Linked DNA regions of Homo sapiens: region 1 is linked to region 2. Evidence: fine-mapped expression QTL. A gene starts in region 2. The other region holds a variant in brackets. All regions are shown on one strand. Distances are from middle to middle.

Evidence for each region. PIP is the estimated chance that this variant, and not a neighbour inherited with it, causes the effect.
Region 1: its variant is the best candidate, but not a certain one, in a credible set for the expression of CMA1 in unexposed skin (GTEx, PIP 0.50).

What each region holds. Positions count from the first base shown.
Region 1 is chr14:24,595,448-24,599,630 of GRCh38, reverse strand. No RefSeq gene overlaps it. Among named protein-coding and RNA genes, the nearest start is that of GZMH, 12 kb to the left of the region's middle. The variant T/C (reference allele first, on the strand shown) is at 2,299.
Region 2 is chr14:24,506,618-24,510,800 of GRCh38, reverse strand. It overlaps CMA1 (chymase 1), which reads left to right and starts at 2,536. Exons shown (of 5, transcript NM_001836.5): 1 at 2,536-2,623; 2 at 3,295-3,445. The coding sequence starts at 2,566. RefSeq lists an enhancer at 2,728-3,927.

The DNA.
Region 1 (4,183 bases), 89 kb before region 2:
AAATGGTGCTGGGAAAATGGGCTAGCCATATGCAGAAAACAGAAATTGGACTCCTTCCTTACAACTTATACAAAAATTAACTCAAGATGGATTAAAGACTTAAATGTAACACCCAAAACCATAAAAACCCTAGAAGAAAACCTAGGCAATACCACTCAGGACATAGATATGGGCAAAGACTTCATGACTAAAACACTAAAAGCAATTGCAACAAAAGCCAAAATTGACAAATGGGATCTAATCAAACTAAAGAGCTTCTGCACAGCAAAAGAAACCATCATCAGAGTGAACAGACAACCTAGAGAATGGGAGAAAATTGTTGAAATCTATTCATCCAACAAAGTTCTAATATCCAGAATCTACAAGGAATTTAAACAAATTTACAAGAAAAAAACAAACAACCCCATGAACAATGAGCAAAGTATATGAACAGACACTTCTCAAAAGAAGACATTTATGAGGCCAACAAACATGAAAAAAAGCTCATCATCGCAGGTCATTAGAGAAATGCAAATCAAAACCACAATGTGACAGCGTCTCATGCCAGTTAGAATGGCAATCATTAAAAAATCAGGAAACAACAGATGCTGGAGAGGAGGTAGAGAAATGAGAACGCTTTTACAGTATTGGTGGGAGCATAAATTAGTTCAACCATTGTGGAAGACAGTGTGGTGATTCTTCAAGGATCTAGAACCAGAAATACCATTTGACCCAACAATCCCATTATGGGCCATATACCCAAAGGATTAGAAATCATTCTACTATAAAGACACATGCACACTTATGTTTATTGCAGCATTATTTGCAATAGCAAAGACTTGGAACCAACCCAAATGCCCATCAATGATAGACTGGATAAAGAAAATGTGGCACATATACACCATGGAATACTATGCAGCCATAACAAAGGATGAGTTCATGTGCTTTGCAGGGATATGGATGAAGCTGGAAACCATCATTCTCAGCAAACTAACACAGGAACAGAAAACAAAACACCACATGTTCTCACTTATAAGTGGGAGCTGACGATGAGAACACATGGACACAGGGAGGGTAACATCACACACTGGGGCCTGTCAGGGGATTGGGGGCAAGGGCAGTGAGAGCAGTAGGACAAATACCTAATGCATGAGGGGCTTAAAGCCTAGATGACGTGTTGATAGATGCAGCAAACCACCATGACACATGTATACCTATGTAACAAACCTGCACATTCCACACGTGTATCCCAGAACTTAAAGTAAAAAAAAAGACAGAGAAAGTACAAGAAATTGGGATTTTGCTATTACTTTTAATGACAAAACCACAATTGCTCTTGCACCAACCTAATAGATCTAACCAAAAAGGTTTTCATCAAGGTACATTATAGTCAAATGTCAAAAGTGAAAGACAAAGAGAGATTTTTTAAAAGCAGCAAGAGAAAAGCATGTAGTCACTTGAAAGGGAACCCCCATCAGACTAAAAGTGTGTTTCTCAGCAGACACCTTACAGACCAGGAGAATGGGATGATATATTCAAATTACTGAAAAAGAAAAAAAAATCTAGCAGTCAAGGATACTATACTCAGAAAAGCTATTCTTCCAAAATGAAGGCGATACAAGGCTTTTCCCAGACAAGAAAACACTGTGGGAATTGATCACCTCTAGACTAGTCCTAAAACAAATGCTTAAGGGAGCCCTACATCTGGAAGTGAAAGAATATTTAGCATCATGAAAACACATGAAAGTATAAAACTCACTGGTAGAAAAGATGTACAAATGAGAAAAGAAACGACTAAAATATTGCCACTACAGAAAACATTCAAATCACAATTATAAACAACAAGGGAGAAAGAAAGGAATAAAACATATACAAAAAAACAGAAAATAATAAACAAAATGACAGAAATAAATTCTCACCTATCAACAATAACCTTGAACATAAACAGATTAAATTCCCCACTGAAAACACAGATTGGCTGAATGGATTTTTAAAAACATGATCCAACTATATCCTTCCTACAAGAAACTTACTTCACCTGTAAAGACATGTAGACTGAAAGTGAAAGGATGAAAAAAAGATATTCCACATAAATGGAAACCAAAAGCAAGCAGGTGTAGCTATACTTATATCAAATAAGACAGACTGTAAGTCAAAAACAGTAAAAAGGGACAAAGAAGGTCATTATATAATCACAAAGGGATCAGCTCAGCAAAAGAATATAACAATTACAAATATATATGCACTCAACACTGGAGCACCAAGATATAAAGCAAATATTATTAGATTTAAAGGGAAAGATAGATGCCAAAACAATAG[T/C]TGGAGACTCTAACACCCTACTTTCAGCATTGGACTGGTCATCTAGACAGAAAGTCAAAAAAGAACCATTGGATTTCAACCACACTGTAGGCCATGGACCTAACAGACATCTACAGATCACTTTATCCAACCGATGCAGAATACACACTCTTCTCATCAATACATGCAACATTCTCCAGGAAAGACCACATGTTAGGCCATAAAGCAAGCCTCAATAAATTTTTAAAAATCAAAAGCATATCAAGTATCTTCTCAGACCACAATAGAATAAAAATAAAAATCAAAAACAAGAACAACTTTGGAAACTATGCAAATACATGGAAATTTAAAAACATCCTGAGCAACCATTGGATCAAGGGAGAAATCAAAAAAGTTTTTGAAATGAATGAAAATGGAAACAAAACATACCAAACCTATGTGATAAGCAAAAGCAATATTAAAAGGGAAGATTATAGTAACAAACACTACATCAAAAAAGTAGAAAGGTTTCACATAAACAACCTGGAAATGCACCTAAGGAATCAGAAAAGCAAGAACAAACCAAAATCAAAATTAGTAGAAGAAAATAAATAATAAAAAACGAGAGGAGCTAAATGAAATAGAGAAAAAGATAGAAAAGGACAGCAAAACAAAAACTTGGCTTTTTGAAAAGATAAACAAAAGCAACAAACCATTAGCTAGACTATGAAAAAAAGAAAGAAAACCCAAATAAATGAAAGCAAAAACAAAAAAGGAGACATTACAATCTGAAATAAAGAAAAAGCTAAGAACTTCATAAAAAAACTCTTAGAAATTATAAACAAATTTAGTAAATCAACATACAAAAATTAATAGCATTTCTATATACCAATAAAAATTAGCAGAAAAAGAAATCAAGATAGCAATCCTATTCACCATAGCCACCAAAAAATTCAATATTTAAGGAACAAATTTAATGAAAGAGGTGAAAGAAGAACTCTACACTGAAAACTAGAAAACACTGATAAAATAAAATGAAGATGACACAAAGAAAAGAAAAGACATCTAGAAATCATCATGGCAGACGGGAGGCAGGACTAGATTGCAGCTCCAACTCGGACAGACAGAGCAGCCTGTGGAGGGTCACACTGTGAATTTTTTCTCCATATCAATGGCAAGAACAAACCAGCAATCCCAAGAGGACCCACAGACCTCTGAAAGAAGCATACTGCTCCCGCAGGGCCCGGGAGACACCACAAATACTGTGAGTGCCCCAACTGTGGAAGTGGAAAGGGGAGATCCTCCTCTCCTTAACACACATCCCTACTGAAGAAACTGAAGCTCTGTTTGTGGGAGAAGTTTCCAACCTTACCTGGCACTGAGTCAATTTAGAGAGCTGAGTAAAATACAGGGGTAGAGGAAGCAGCAGAAAGGCTCTAAGAGCTCACTCGGTCCCCAAGCAAGACATTCCTGCCAGGGACCACACGGATCCATTGGGAGGGTGGCCAGAGGAGCAACAGGAAAATGCCACAGGAAGAAGGAAATCTCCAGCTGAACTTTGCAACAATTTGAATTGGGCAAGAAGCTTCCTGGCCAGAACTTGGGGGAGGTCATGAATCCAGTGTGCAGACTCCACAGCCTGGGGAAGAACTGAAGCCCTTTTCTTTCACAGCTGGAAGAGGTAGCCTGGGGCAAGTTCTCATGCCCAGCTCACCCACTGCCTGGAAACAGACTCAGGGTTGTTATTTGGGGCACAGTTGGAATGAGATCAGCCCTTCGATTTGCATAGGAGCTGCATGACGCCTTTGACTGCTGACTTTCCCCCACTTCCCTGGACAACCTGCATGACTCAGCAGAGGCAGCCCTAATCCTCCTAGGTACACAATTCCATTGACATGGGAAGTTCACCCCTATTCCCCACAGCAGC
Region 2 (4,183 bases):
CAAATTGTACACCCCTTTATCTGATTAACAGAGTCTAAGTCACATGACCTAAATGCAAGAGAAACTGGGAATGGAAGTTTGTGGATTCTACCTTAGTAAGGCAAAGTTATCATTGGGAATTCCTCTAATACAGGAAGGGTGTTCCAGAGACATTAAGGAGCCATATAAATGGAAAATGTCCACTACAATCCATCACTTGGTTGCCCCACATCAACATTCATTCTTTTGCCACACTTAAAGTTTCCAAGAACAAAAATTATCCCACTGAACATAATCTTTACCATCTTTTATATAAAGGAAAATTAGACTTGACTCAGCAGAACTGAAATAACCCAGTCTCAACAGTTACTGCTTTTAACTTCAAGTACTGTGTCTCTAGGTGATACCTGCTCCAACAATAGTTTGGTCACATTTTCAATTTGATATTCTCTAGTCTCCCAACTTGATAACTGTACCCTAAACCATAAAGTTCACTACCAACATGCTATATATAAAATAACCAAAGGGGGAAGAAGAAAGAGAAAAAGGAAATCTCTTAAAATACACAGGTATACATATGACAAAGCAAAGAAGGAAATGTGAGCAGATAGCGCAGTCCTCGTTTCTGAAATTGGTCCCCTGACTGGGGCTATACCTATTCCATTTCCTCACCCTCAGCCAGGCAGGTGGAGCAAAACTTAAGTCTTGGTGGATCTGAATCTTGATGCTGTGGAGCTGTCTTACTAGCCCCAGACTACCTGCCTCTCAATTTCTAATTATATCAGTGAAAGCAAACAGCTTTGATTTGTTTAAGCCTCTGATTTTTTGGTCTAACTGATGTAAGACCACAAGACAAGAGTTCTCCAGCTCCGGATTCTCTTCTGTTCTGTTAATGGTGAAATGCCCAGAGAAGAGTTGCCAACTTTGGCAAATAAAAAATACAGGATTCCAGTTAAATTCAAATTTTAGATAAACAACAATTTTTTAGTATTAGTGTGTCCCATTCAATATTTGGACATACTTAACTAAAAAATGATTTGTTGTTCATCTGAAATACAAATTTAACTGGGCATTCTGAATATTCTCTGGCAACCCCCGAGAGAGTGAAGAAAGTGGTACAAGGACACTTAAGAAGACCAGATTTGAAAAGACATTACGGATGTGTTTAAATGTCTTATTCTAGAGAGAGTTAGAGCTGTAGGTAGAACTTGGGAAATTAAGTTAAAAGCAACAGAGGACCTGGCCAATATATACTAAGGAGTGGATCACTCTGGTCACAAGCCCAACCTGAGACCAAGGGCATAGTGAGATGATTTGGGAAAGGCACTTATACACTACTCATCCCCGTCTTTGAACTAAATGCCTTATAAATCTCCAAGAGAAATGACAGTCCACCATGTGGACTGCTTTCTGTAAGTCCAGGGAAAATAAAAGCTATGTGCTTGAAACCCACTTCTGATATTATAAGGTGTGTGATCTTTGTCATGTTAATGGGTCTGAGTATCAATTCTACAATTGTAAAGTGACAGTAATGGTGTGTCCCCAGGTTGTTGTGGAAAGCTTGATTCTTAATGCAACAGTAGGAAACCCCAACCTCTCTGGAGCAAACACCCTTCTACATCTTTACTTCCCCTGCACATTGGCAGGACTCTATTCCTCTATTTCTCTCTAGTGCTAGAGCAGAAAGGGACCTTGATTTGATATCAGGAAAATCTATTTCTGAACCATAAGCTATGATAGCTGATTTAAAAAATTGACTATCATGACATGATAATGATCATAATGGTAATACATATTGATAGGGTTGCCGTGAAAGTAATAATATATCTAAGAGTTGTGACAATATATGATACACCTAGACTCTCAGAAAATGCTAATTCCAATCCCAATTGCTCTTTGCATAAAGTTCTGTCCTAGGGTCTGTTCTTTTCCCACATCTACCCTCCTTGGATCTCTCTTCTGTCAAAAACATGTGGTTCAGAGGAGGAGAGAGATCCAGGTCAATGTTTTTCAAATTACAAGGAATTATCATTTAAATGGGGTTGTTGCTCAAGTTTTGACGTGTAGTGGAATGGAGTGGAGTGGAGTGGAATGGAAACTAACAGAAAACACTGCACATGGTTAAGATAAAGATTGTTTCCTGAAACCTTTAATTTGTGCTTACATACTCACACATACATATGTGCATGCACTGGGACTCTGCAATATGCATTTCTGACTATGGAACATAGCCATAAAAGTCTTTGCACTGAACGTTCAGTGGGCCTTTCACAAGCTGCCCTAATTGGGAAAGAAAAACATGGTCCCTCCATTTCCTGCCCCCAACTCCAGAAAAGTCACCATAGTTGAGGGTACATCTGAGAAGCCAGCACTTGGGAGTTCAGGGCTCAAGTTCCTTTCTAGAAAAACACTGGGTGATTCTAGGGGAACTTCTGATCAGAAACAGCCAATTCAGAGTGAGAGAAGAAAACGTGACCATGCAGTTCCTGTGGTTACCAGCCTTGCCCCTCTCTTGCCTTCTGGGAGTTATAAAACCCAAGACTGGAAAGGAAAACCAGCATTTGCTCAGGCAGCCTCTCTGGGAAGATGCTGCTTCTTCCTCTCCCCCTGCTGCTCTTTCTCTTGTGCTCCAGAGCTGAAGCTGGTGAGTATCAGGGTTCTTCCCTCTGAAATCTGCAGTATCAGCTCCTGAAACAAAGATGTTTAGTCTGAAAATAGCTGACTCCTAAACAGGGTTCCAAGATCTCTCTTCAAGAGTCCCAGAGGGAAATTTCCACTTGGGATGTGTGCCACCCCACCCCCACCCCCACCCACTGCCATTCTCTACAGCCTAGGACAGCCCCCAGGAACAAGGAATTTCACCTCAATTGTAGAAAAGCCCAGAGCAAGTGGAAGGAAAAGGGGTATCCCCAGGAAAACAGACATGTCCTCTTAATCTTCTGAGCATCAGGGCTACCCATTACTTTGTGACTTTCTCACTCTGTGACCATGCTCAAGAGCTATGGAGAAATCTAAAACAGGAACCTGGACAGTGGGTCCTACACAGAGACAGAGGAGGGTGGGCCAGGGCAAGGTGGGAGTGGGAGAAGTCTGAGATGAAAACATCAGAATGGAGCAGAGGCAAGAATGAGATTTCACCTGGGAGGTTATGGGTGGGGAAAGATACGAAATACAGGAGACAGGAGAGGGAAGATGGGCGGAACACAGGGTGAGAATGAGATTCCAGGGAAGCCTAGCTCAGCTTTAACCCAATTTGTCCATTCATTGGAGAGAGTATCTATGGCCGTGTTCAAACCCTGGGGTGCTCTGTTCCAGGGGAGATCATCGGGGGCACAGAATGCAAGCCACATTCCCGCCCCTACATGGCCTACCTGGAAATTGTAACTTCCAACGGTCCCTCAAAATTTTGTGGTGGTTTCCTTATAAGACGGAACTTTGTGCTGACGGCTGCTCATTGTGCAGGAAGGTGAGACAACAGGGTCTATTTATCTCCAAATGGGAGATGAACAACCAGAGTAGCATCCAGGAATACACCTGCACTGGGGACTGAAGAGGGGGTCCTGGGTCTTGTCAACTTTCAGGAGAGGGAAGACTTGGGCTGAAAGACTTTAGTCTGTGTTTGAATAGTTCCTTGAGCCTCAGTCACTGTGAGCTAAGCTCCCCTTCGGAGGAAAAGGAGGTCCTGTCCAAGGTCCCTCTTGTTGCAGTAGCACCCCTCACCCCTACCCAACTCAAGACACACGGCTCACTTTTCAGGGCCCCACCCAGTCTCAGGGCCACTTCCTCTATGGCCTTTTCAAGAACACTGGCCTCTAGTTCTCAGGGTCCTGAACCCATCATTTTATGGGAGGCAGAGAACAGGGTCTACATGAGACCCCCACTTTCCCGTTTAACTGATATCTCCTGCTTCAGGGGCTGGCCCTCATGCAGGGTTCCCTGAATTAGGAAGTGTGAACCCTGTCCCCTGAGTCCTCCCTGGCCTGTTCAGTCCCCAGCAATTCCAGGGGTCGTAGAAATTGTGTCTGTTTCCTGAGAAAGCTCTTTCATGAGTTAAGCCTGAGCCCTCAAATGCCACAAGTGGCCCATGAAAAGGGAGATGGGTAGAGTCCGGCGACCCAGTGACAGAGTTTAGTCCTCTTTTCTCAGAATGAGCTCACCTCAGAAGAAACCCCAAGCCATCACTGTCGCTCCTTTTCCTTCCTTC